Regions from separate parts of the Homo sapiens genome. Here region 2 is linked to region 1. Evidence: fine-mapped expression QTL. A gene starts in region 1. The other region holds a variant in brackets. All regions are shown on one strand. Distances are between the middles of the regions.

Region 1 (5,244 bases):
TTGCAGCAGGAGTGATCTCTGGAAACCTCGGTAAAGCCACTTGATGCCACTTCTCAAAATCCTCCCAAGCTTTCCCTCTCGCTCAAAAGCCAAAATCCTCACCGGGATCCACAAGGCCCCACATGACCTCACTCTCGGCCACGTCTCCAATCTCCCACTCAGCTCCAGCTACCCCGGCTTCCTTGCTGGGCCTGAAATCCCTGAACGCTCCCTATCCCGCCCCGTGCTTACCATTTCTTCCCTAGGTGCCTGCACAGCTTGTGTCCCTAGGCCTCCGCTCAGTGTTGCTTGAGAAGCCTCCTTGGACCGCCCAATTGACAGGAGCAAGAGCAGGATCCCACCCCTCCCAGCCCTGGTTTCAGGTGTCCCTTCATTTTCTGAGCCATCTTTGTTGGGATTCCCACGTGAGGACTTAGTGTTCCGGGGAGCAGAAACTTACTGTGTTTCCCAGGTGTCCCCATTGCCTAAAGCAGAAGCTGTGGGGTTGAAGGTTTTAGAATGAGTGTGAGGCAGAAGCCCCACCTGTTTCTTAAACACATTGAGATTTCTCCTTCTTTGGGACCTTTTGACAGAGCTGCCCCCTCTGTCTGGAAGCCTCTTCCACCTGATCTTGTCCCATTCAGGTTTCAACTCCAGTGCCTCTCTTCGAAAAGGCCATCCCTCATCCCTTCCAAAGCCCTCCGTGGGCTCTCATGGTTTTTCGTTCAGTTGCTGCAGCTCCATGACAACATCTTGTCCTCTCTAGCTCTCCGATGAATTCCTGTGCCTGGAACATTGCCGGGCATACAGCAGGGGATGAGTAAGTATTTGCCGAACAAGGACACTTACAGTGGTTCTCATGGCCTATAGCAGGCCCTTGTTAGAGCCCTGTGGTGCAGATGGCCAACCCAGAGTTGACCAGACCACATCAGAGCCTCATCCTCGCCCCAGCAGGCCAGGGTCTCAGAGTCCAGCTGGCAGAAGACACCTGAGCTCAAAACCCCTCCACGATTCCCCAGATCACACAGCTTGGAGACCTTTCCAGAGGTGAGCTGAGCTAGGCCTTCCTGGAAATCCTGACTTTGCACTGGGGAAGAGCAGGTGGAAAAAGATTCCAGACTTGAGGAGCATTGTGACTCACAGAATCTTGGAACCTTAGAGCGGAATGTGGATGGGATGAGTAAGGACTGTTCTGAGAAGGATAAGGAGACCTCTCACCTTGGGGCTGGGCCTGAACCAGGGAGGGGCTGAAGAAAATCAGCAAGCTGGTTCCCCTCAGGGCCTCAAGGGACCTCTGCCTGAGGAATCAGCATTTGGCTTTGTAAGCACCAGGAGTACTCCTGGAAGCTCCAGGGTAAGCAAATGGAATGAGGCGGTAATTACTTTGGCAACAGTGTGGACTGGCTGAAGCTGGGAGTCTGGTAGGCGCGGACACCCCTGGAGACTTTGGGCGAAGGGTCCACGGGGATGCCTGTGAAGACAGGAGGCCGAAGTGTAGGGAGGCCGAAGGCCTCGGGGGTCACCAGGTGGGCTGGTAGAGGAAAACACGGAGCCATGGGATGTGAGGCCTCAAGACTGCAGGCGCTGTGGGCCTTCATTTGCAGTTGATGCTCCGTTTGGGTTTCTGCTGGTTGACTGTGAGACCTGACTCCTTTCCCCAACAATGCAGACTTCAGCCAAACCTTTCCCTGATCTGGGCCTCTACATGTCAAAAGCCCACCCCTGTGACTGGGGGATGGGATTATTTTCTTCACACCTGTCACCACTCTACCTTCTAACACTGGGTTCTGGGCAACATTGTGGATGGTGGCAAAACTGGGCAGAGATGTAAGAATGTCATAACTGGAGCCGGGTAAGCCAGGGTGCTGGAGGGGAGGGCCTCCCCAAGCCAGGGTCCTGGCGAAGACGTGATTTGAGTCCATCCAGGGCAGTGCCTTGTTAGCAGGCACCCCCAGGAAGAGCCTGGGGCCACGGCCAACCGCCCAGCCACGGCCTCCTGGGCAAGAAATAACTGCTTCTCATCTCTGTACTTCTTGAGTGGGAGGCAAACAGTCACAGCCATGAAACATCTGTGGGGTCTCACTGCGGACGTGGGGGACTCCCAGCTCCTTTTTCCATGCCGTGCTTATTCTCCCACCCCTTCTCGGATGCCCCATGATGTGGAGGGGAGCCCTTCGCCCCACACTTCTGGGACACCCTCCTGACGCTCCCCTCTCCTCCCCACAACCATCCTCGCCTCCCCACAACCATCCTCGCCTCCCCCGCCGTCCGGGCCATGACAGCCACCTCAGAGCTACAGCGCACAAGGAGCGTTTCGGTCCTCATGATTTCCCAGGGAGGGAAACAGACACTCAAATACCTGCAAACCAAATTCTGTCTTTGCTATAGCGATATATTTCTCCTTTCCATGAAGAAAGAACAGAAAAAAGAAAAAGAATTTATTTAGGAGAGGAAGGAAAGGCAGTAATGATGATGGTGGAAAGGAAACGGTCTAGTTCGCCCAACAACGGAATCTGAAAGTGGTGGGGGCTGGGAAGTGGGGTAGGAAAGAAGTTCTTAGAGGCAACGCGGAATCGCCCTTCCCAGGGCTCCCCAGGAGCAGAGGTCCTGCGTAAAAAAGACTTAAAAATTGGAGCACTGGATGCCATGGATCCTTTGGATTTTGATTCCAGTTGATCCCTGGAGTAAGGTCCTAACCGGGGTCTCCCGAGGTCGTTTCGCCGTCCAGGATGGAGCAGGTCTGGCCCCTGGAAGGGCGCGCGGGCTGCTTGGGGACGGGGGCGCCTTTTCTCGCGCTTCGCGGTTTCCTCTCTCCTACTGCAGGCAGCGCGCGTTTGCAGCGTTTTGGGACCGAACTGATGCTTCTGGGAAACGAAACTAAACCTCTCTGAAGTTTCCAGCTCGGGCTTTTTTTGTTTCCCGCTATCCGGCGTGGCCCAGTCCGGGCGCGGAACGAGGGCGGGGCCGTGGCCACCGCGGCGGAAACGACCCGGGCCGGGGGCGGGCGGCGAGGACAAGGGGGCTCTGTGCGGCACCCGCCCAGCTTGCGCCCTGGGGACTGCGGCCGGGCGGCGGGGCTGGACGGGAGTGGACGGGGCTGGGCGCGGGCTGGGCGCGCTGGGCCGGCCAGGCGGCGCGCTGACCGCGGTCTCCGTGCGTCCCGCAGGCGGGGAGCTCGCACCGCCGCGCCCGGGCCGCGAGTGATGATAACCTAAGAGGCCGGCGCGGGCGGGCGTGAGCGGCGGAGGAGCCGGGCGCGGCGACACGCGGCCATGGAGCGGGAGCCGGCGGGGACCGAGGAGCCCGGGCCTCCGGGACGGCGGAGGCGCCGAGAGGGCAGGACGCGCACGGTGCGCTCCAACCTGCTGCCGCCCCCGGGCGCCGAGGACCCTGCGGCTGGCGCGGCCAAGGGCGAGCGGCGACGGCGGCGCGGGTGTGCCCAGCACCTGGCCGACAACCGGCTCAAGACTACCAAGTACACGCTGCTGTCCTTCCTGCCCAAGAACCTGTTCGAGCAGTTCCACCGCCCGGCCAACGTGTACTTTGTCTTCATCGCGCTGCTCAACTTCGTGCCGGCGGTGAACGCCTTCCAGCCCGGCCTGGCACTGGCGCCGGTGCTCTTCATCCTGGCCATCACGGCCTTCAGGGACCTGTGGGAGGACTACAGCCGCCACCGCTCCGACCACAAGATCAACCACCTGGGCTGCCTGGTCTTCAGCAGGTGAGTTGGGCGGGCGGGCGAGCGAGCGCGCGGTGGCGCAGGGCAGGGCGCCCCGGGAACTTGGTGTTGGGCACAGTGATTGGCAGGGGCTGGGTGCTTAGAAGGCAGCTCCACTCAGGGTGGAGGGCCCGGCTGCGCGGGACCCGGTGCCGACCGAAGCCACAGCGCCGCCAAGGCCTCTCTGTGCCTCCGCCGCAGCTAAAGGGGCGCCCTGGATGCGGGGACGCGTGGGGATCCCCTGTCACTCCGTGTCGGGGCCAGAATGATCCCAAGGCTAGAAACCGACGGCCGCTGGACATCCTCATCCACAGCCGCTCCCACCTGAAGTGAAAGGCAGGAAAAGCCAGCCTGGCCCCCTGGCCTGAAGTCCCTGCCTCAGTCTTCGGCCAGGCACAGTGGTCTCTGAACAGCCGGCACAGGACAGTAAAGCTCAGTCTGCTAACAGCTCGGCTCAGGACAGCAGCAAAGTGAAACTGCCGCCAAGTGCTGATATGTCTGGCACGGCCCAGGTACCAGGGCAGGGGAAATAACAGCAGTGTCCATCCTCCACTGTGAGCCATGAGCCGCGAGCCAGGCACCGCCCGGTAGCTGCCTGCCTAATTTTCTTCATCTTAACCTGCTTCCTGGGGGAAAGAGGCTGTGGGGTGTTTGTGAGCCCTGCCACGGGCAGTACCAGGGGTGACCCTGCGATGGACCACTCCTGCTCTTTTTCCCTCCCTGAGTTTTAGAGTCTCCGGCGGACCTGTCCAGAGGCCTGCGGCCTTTTCATCCTTTATGCTCTCCACCCCAGGAGAGCCCCTTGGTAGATCCATCTTGGAGCTGTGTCCAGCAGCCTGGACCACCTCAAGGCCCTGTCCCTGAGAAAGGTGGGTCGTCTTAGCTTTCCTCCAAAGCTCAGCCCATCGTTACCTCCTGCCTCACCTTGCTTGACCCCGGAACAGGGACTGAGATGGGCTTCTGAATAGAACATTAGCGGTATCTGGCTTCCATTATGCATGGGGAGACTCTAGGAAGCCCTATGCTCTCTTAGTGGCAGATTGTTCCCCTAAAAGAGGAGGGTCAGAGTGGCTCCTGCCTCTTAAACGTAGGCATTCACGAATGCCTTAGACACAGGCACTCATAGCTTGGATGAAGCCATGGATGCGTGCCTCTGTAGTTGAGTACCTTTCACCCTCCCAGCAACACTGCAGTGGTTATGCTCCATATTTTTGTAAACAGAGTAAACGGGTTCAGAGAGGTTAAGTAAACCTGCCCAGTGTCACACAGCAGCAAGGTCGTGGTACTGGGATTTGACCCAGGTCTTCCCGCCCGCACAGCTTTTTGAATATTTCTTTGCTCGTGCTTCTGAAACTTTTGTAAGAGTCACTGAAGGCGCTTGTTAAAATTACAGTTTTCCAAAGTGTCTCACTCAGCAGGCCTGGGATTGAGCCCAGGAATGTATTAGATTAGCGTGCACGTAACTCTTATATGATGGCCCACACTTTCAGAAACACCACTCTGCCTGCTCCCAAGCCTTGCTCTTTGGCCAGTCAGCAAGAGTGACT
Region 2 (5,485 bases), 21 kb before region 1:
TAGTGAGCCAAGATCACACGACTTACTGCACTCCAGCCTGGGCAACAGAGAAAGACCTTGTCTGAAAAAGGAGGGATGGAAGGAAGGAAGGAAGGGAAGGCAAGGGAGGGGAGGGGAGGGGAGGGAGGGAAGGAAGGAAGGAATAAAGGAAAGGAAAGCTCACTAAGGAACCAATAATGAGGAAAGTGTGAGCACAGCTAACATTCAAGAACAACAGCCGTTTGGAAAAATGGCTGCAAGTAACAATTAAAACAAGCAAATAAAAAAGCAACAAAGTACAATTTTTACATAATAAGTCAACAAACATAATGATAAAAACCCTGGGCTCCAGAGGCTCTGTGGAATCTGGTGCACTGTGCATACAAGTGAAGTCCCCACACCCTTTCCCCTCCAAGACACACACTTCCCCAAGCCAGGCGTAAGCACCCAGATCTGCTGGCACAGAATGGGGAGGTTGGGCAAGTCTGCGTGGGAAGGGAACAGAGATGAGGGCCTGGGAGAAAGCACGGGTGACTTGACTAGAGGCCTTGAACTTCCCCTCTCACTGGTCTTTTTCTTTAAAACAAACCCATTCACCATCCCTCCACCCCTCCATGTTCCCTGCTGCTCCTGATTGATGCAAAAGAACAAACACATTCATTTCCTAACAAACACCCATGTGGTGAGATAACATGTTGATCTGAACCGACATGCTTATCATTCCGTCTTTCCCCATGGCCTCCTTCCATTTTGGCAGCAACTTGAGGTCTTGTCTTACCAGCTCTCGAATGTTGGCCGGGAGAGGAGAGGAGACCCAGTGTTGGAGCTCTCAGCCTTTGCATCCCAAAATAGACTTTTGAAACTTCATGTGGAGAAAGAGAGACCTCAGGGAAGCTCATGATGAAAAGGCATTTCTCTCACCCACTTCATCCCAGACTTGACAAAGACGTCAGAGTCCAGGGAAGGAGGAAAGGAGAAGACCAACACAGATAATTCTATATGGCAGGCGGCCTAGCGTCCTGTCCTGCACCCACAAGCCTGATTGAGGGAGAAGGGACAGAGGGAACCCCCTTTTCCTTTCCCTCTTACTTGGCCCAGTCCCTTCCTGGCTTCTGCCTACCCCTGTCTTTGTTGCCTTTGATTCAGTGTTTTGTTACATCCGCATTGGTTTCACTATCTTTCATCAGTCCTATAACCTCTCTTCCCAACTCCTCTGCCTCCCTTTTTCTCAAAATCTATGCCTTTTTTAGACTGACGGTTCCTGCCTTACGACGGTTTGACTTAGACTTTTCAAACTTACTGTGGTGTGAAAGCAATACACACTCAATAGAAACAGTACTTTGAGGCCAGGCATAGTGGCTCACATCTGTAATCCCACAAGTTTGGGAGGCTGAGATGGATGGATCCCTTCAGGCCAGGAGCTCGAGACCAGCCTGGGCAACGTGGTTAAACCTCGTTTCTACCAAAAATACAAAAATTAGCCAAGCATGGTGGCGGCGGGCACCTGTGGTCTCAGCTGCTGGGGAGGCTGAGGTAGGAAGACGGCTTGAGTCTGGGAGGTCAAGGCTGCCACAGAGCAAGAACCTTTCTCAAAAAAAAAAAAAAGAAAGAAAGAAAGAAAAGAAAAAAAAAGAAAAGAAATAGTAGCTGGAGAACCCACACAACTGTTCTGTTTTTCACTTTCAACCGTATTCAATAAACTATCTGAGATATTCAACACTTTATTATAAAATAAGCTTTGTGTGAGATGACTTTGCCCAACTGCAGGCAACTGCAGGCACTCTGAGCATGGGTGAGGTGGGTTAGGCTGAGCTAGGATATTCAGCAAGTCAGGTATATCACATGCACTTTCTACTTAAGATATTTTCCATTGACCACTGGTTCATTGTGACGTAATCCCGTCATAAGCCGAGGAGCATCTGTATTATTACTATTATTATTATTGTTATTATTATTATGGTGTGTGCACAACAAATGTTTATCAGCTTCTCATTCTCTTTTCCCAATTGTCTCATTTTTTCATTTTTCAAATATTTATGGACAATCTACTATGCGCCAGTCATTGTTGCAGGTACTGGAGCTACAGGAGAGGACAAAGTAAACACAATTTCTATCCTTTCCCTCTCATGGACTTTATATTCAAATAGGCTGGGGGCGATGTAGAAAATGATATCAACACATAGACTGTAACACCAGGTGGTGATGAGGGCTCTGAAGATAAGTAAGTCAGGAAGAAGGAAGCTGCCAAACACAACTGGAGTAGTGTCAAAAAGGTACATACCACTAATCTCAGCGCTTTGGGAGGCTGAGACAGGAGAATTGCTTGAGACCAGGAGTTTGAGACCAGCCTGGACAACATAATAAGACCCTGTCTCTACAAAAAAAAAAAAACTTAAAAATTAGTTCAGCATGGCGGTATGTGCTTGTAGTCCCAGCTACTCAGGAGGCGAGGCAGAAGTATTGCTTGAGCCCAGGAGTTTGAGGCTTCAGTGAGCTATGGTCATGCCACTGCACTCCAGCTGGGGTGAGAGAGAGACCCTGTCTCTAAAAAATAATAACAAAATGAAATAAAAAGGGACTGACTTGGATGTCAGTGCATTAGGAAAGGTCTTTGAGAAAGTTGACAGCCTAATGCAGTGACAGTGGCAGTTAGACAGGCATCGATTGCTCAGACTCACAGATCTGCAGATTATTATGAGGCGGAATCCAATATGCTGTGTACAGCAACCACATTAAAGTAAGGTTATGCATCACAGCCAAAGGGCGTCTCCCAATAAGGGGCCAAGAGAGGTCAGGGCAGGCTCCTCATGCTCCCTCTGAAAGCACTTGGCCAGATGCACCCTCTCTCAGATCAGGACCTAGGAGCTACAGAGGCATGCACTAAGCAGGCTGTTAAAGCTGAACCAAGAAGCAGAGCCAAACTGGGAAGGTGAGGTGCAAGGGACCACAGAGACTGAGTGCAGGGAGCAGAGGCAGGCAGCGGGTGTTTGCGTGCTTTTTGTAAGTATTTTGGTTCATCTTAGTGTGTCCACTTAATGGAGCTAGAATAAGTCAGCAATTTCCATGTGATAGTCCATAATTAAAAGAAATAATACCATGTTGTTATAAGGAAAAGAGAGTTGAATAAGAGGTTCTTGGCTTCATTAAGCCAATTAGATCAGTTTCCTTCTGGGAAAGGCACAATGATTCCTACCGCACCAGAGAATTCAAGTGAACCCTGACAGCTCTCAGGATTAGGAAGTATTTGCTCAAGCATGGAAGTCAAGCTTCAGGGGTGGCTAAAGAATGTCTGAGCCT[G/A]ACTATGCAGATGCCACGCGTAACTAGACTGTGGGAGGATAGCATATATCGACAGTAAGTCATCCAAAGGGCTTCTAATTTTTGACTTATTATAAAAGCATACTGCACATTCCGGGAAGTGCACACATCATAATGTACAGTTAAAGGATTACCACAAAGTAAATACAGTCATGCCAAGAAGTAGAGCATTGCCAACACTCCAGAAGATCCCTTATGCTTTCCCCAGCCACTGACACCTTTCCTTCTTAAAGGTAACAACAAAAGTAAAAAGAAATGCAAAAACCCAGGCAACTGGCATTCTGTTCAGTTAATAGAATATTACAAAACCTCACAAAGTTCCCTTAAGACCCTTTCCAATCATTTTCCACCCCTCAATGCCAGAGGCAACCATTGTTTAGACTGTTTTCCAAGCTACATTAGTTTTGCCTATCCATGGACTTCATCTACATAGAATCAAACATTAGGGAGTCTTTCATCTCTGGCTTCTTTCACTCAGCATAATGTACTGTGATTCATCTATGTTCTTGAATGTATCCTTGATATTATTGAATAACAGTCCATCATATGGAAATAACACATTTTGTTTATCCATTCACTTGTCGATAGACATTGCAGTGGTTTCTAGTTTTTGGCTATTTTGAATAAAGCTGCAATGAACAACCATTTTATGTACATATATTTTCATTTATCTAGAGTACATGACTAGGACTAGAATTGCTGATCACAGATAAACATATTTCATTAAAACAGAAACTACCACACATAGTTCCATAGTGGTTGTGCTGATGCTGGACAGGCGAGCCCCCAAATTGGGGCTTAGCCTGGGAGGGCTCTTGGCTTCACCCAGGAAAGAATTCAAGGGTGAACCGGTGGTGTTAAACAGCAACTTTGATGGCAGCACAGTGCACAGCAGTAGCAGGGGGTACTGCTCCTTGTGAAGCGGGGCTAACCACAGGCAGTGTGCCCAGAGTAGCAGCTCAGGGGGGTTCCGCAGTCATTTCATACCCACTTTTAATCACAGGCAAATCAAGGGGTGGATTATACAGAAATTTCTAGAAAAAAGATGGTAACTTCTGGGTTGTCAGGTCATTGTCATGGAAAGGGGTGGTAACTTCTGGTGTTGCCATGGCAATGGTAAACTGACATGGCACTGGTGGGCATGTCTTATGGAGAGGTGCTTTTGCCTCTTCCCTGTTTCAGCTAGTCTTCAATCTGGTCTGGAGTCTGAGCCCCACCTCTGGAGTCAAGTCCCACCTCCCGCCTCAGTACCTGCTTTACACTTCCACCTGCAATGCCTGAGAGTTCCAGCTGCTTCACATTCTTTGCCAATATTTGGTGGTATTATTCCTTTTCACTTGAGCCATTCTAATCTGTGTGTAATTGTACCACCTGGGCCTGGAGTTTCCTTTATGGGAAGGACTTTGATTTTGTTTTTATTTCTATTTTTATTCATTTTAAATTTGAGATGGACATTTGGTCTGTTGCCCAGGCTGGAGTGCAGTGACACAATCATGATTCACTGCAACCTCGACCTCCCAGGCTCAAGCAGTCCTCCTGCCTCAGTCTCCCAGGAAGCTGGGACTAAAAGTGTTCACCACCATGCCTGGCTAATTTTTTAAATTTATTTTTAAGAGAGATGAGATCTCACTATGTTTCCCAGGCTAATCTTGAAATCCTGGGCTCAAGTGATCCTCCAGCCTAGGCCTCCCAGAGTGCTGGGATTACAGGCATGAGCTACTTACTGCACCTGGCCTAGGACTTAGATTTTGAATTTAATATCTTTAACTGATATAGAGCTATTCAAATTTTACCTTCATCTTGCACTGGTTTTGGTAAACTGTTTTTCAAAGAAATATCCTATAACATCTAATTTGTTGAATGTATTAGAAGTCCACTATGTTGACTTGTTGTTGTTTTAATAACTATATGTTGTAGTGTTGCAGTGAGAGTGCGATTTCATTTAACCTCCACTTTTTTGCTATCAGTGTCATATATTTTAAATTTGCATAAGTTAGAAACCTCACAATAGATTGGTATAATTTTTTGTTTAAACAATTGCTTGCTTTTCAAAGACATTCAGAAATTAAATATAATACAGTATCTTTTTTGGTTTATATTTACAATATCCAGTCTTCTCCACTTCTTTTCACCTGAAGAACTTTTAGCTTCTCCTCTAACTCAGGTCAGCTGGTAGTGAATTCTCTCAGCT

What was found.
Region 2: its variant is fine-mapped to the expression of ATP10A in esophagus mucosa (GTEx, PIP 0.96).

The regions. Positions count from the first base shown.
Region 1 is chr15:25,861,104-25,866,347 of GRCh38, reverse strand. It overlaps ATP10A (ATPase phospholipid transporting 10A (putative)), which reads left to right and starts at 3,021. Exons shown (of 21, transcript NM_024490.4): 1 at 3,021-3,700. The coding sequence starts at 3,252. ATP10A-DT (ATP10A divergent transcript) reads right to left here and starts at 1,078. Exons shown (of 2, transcript NR_183988.1): 1 at 440-1,078.
Region 2 is chr15:25,881,912-25,887,396 of GRCh38, reverse strand. No RefSeq gene overlaps it. Among named protein-coding and RNA genes, the nearest start is that of LINC02346, 18 kb to the left of the region's middle. The variant G/A (reference allele first, on the strand shown) is at 3,277.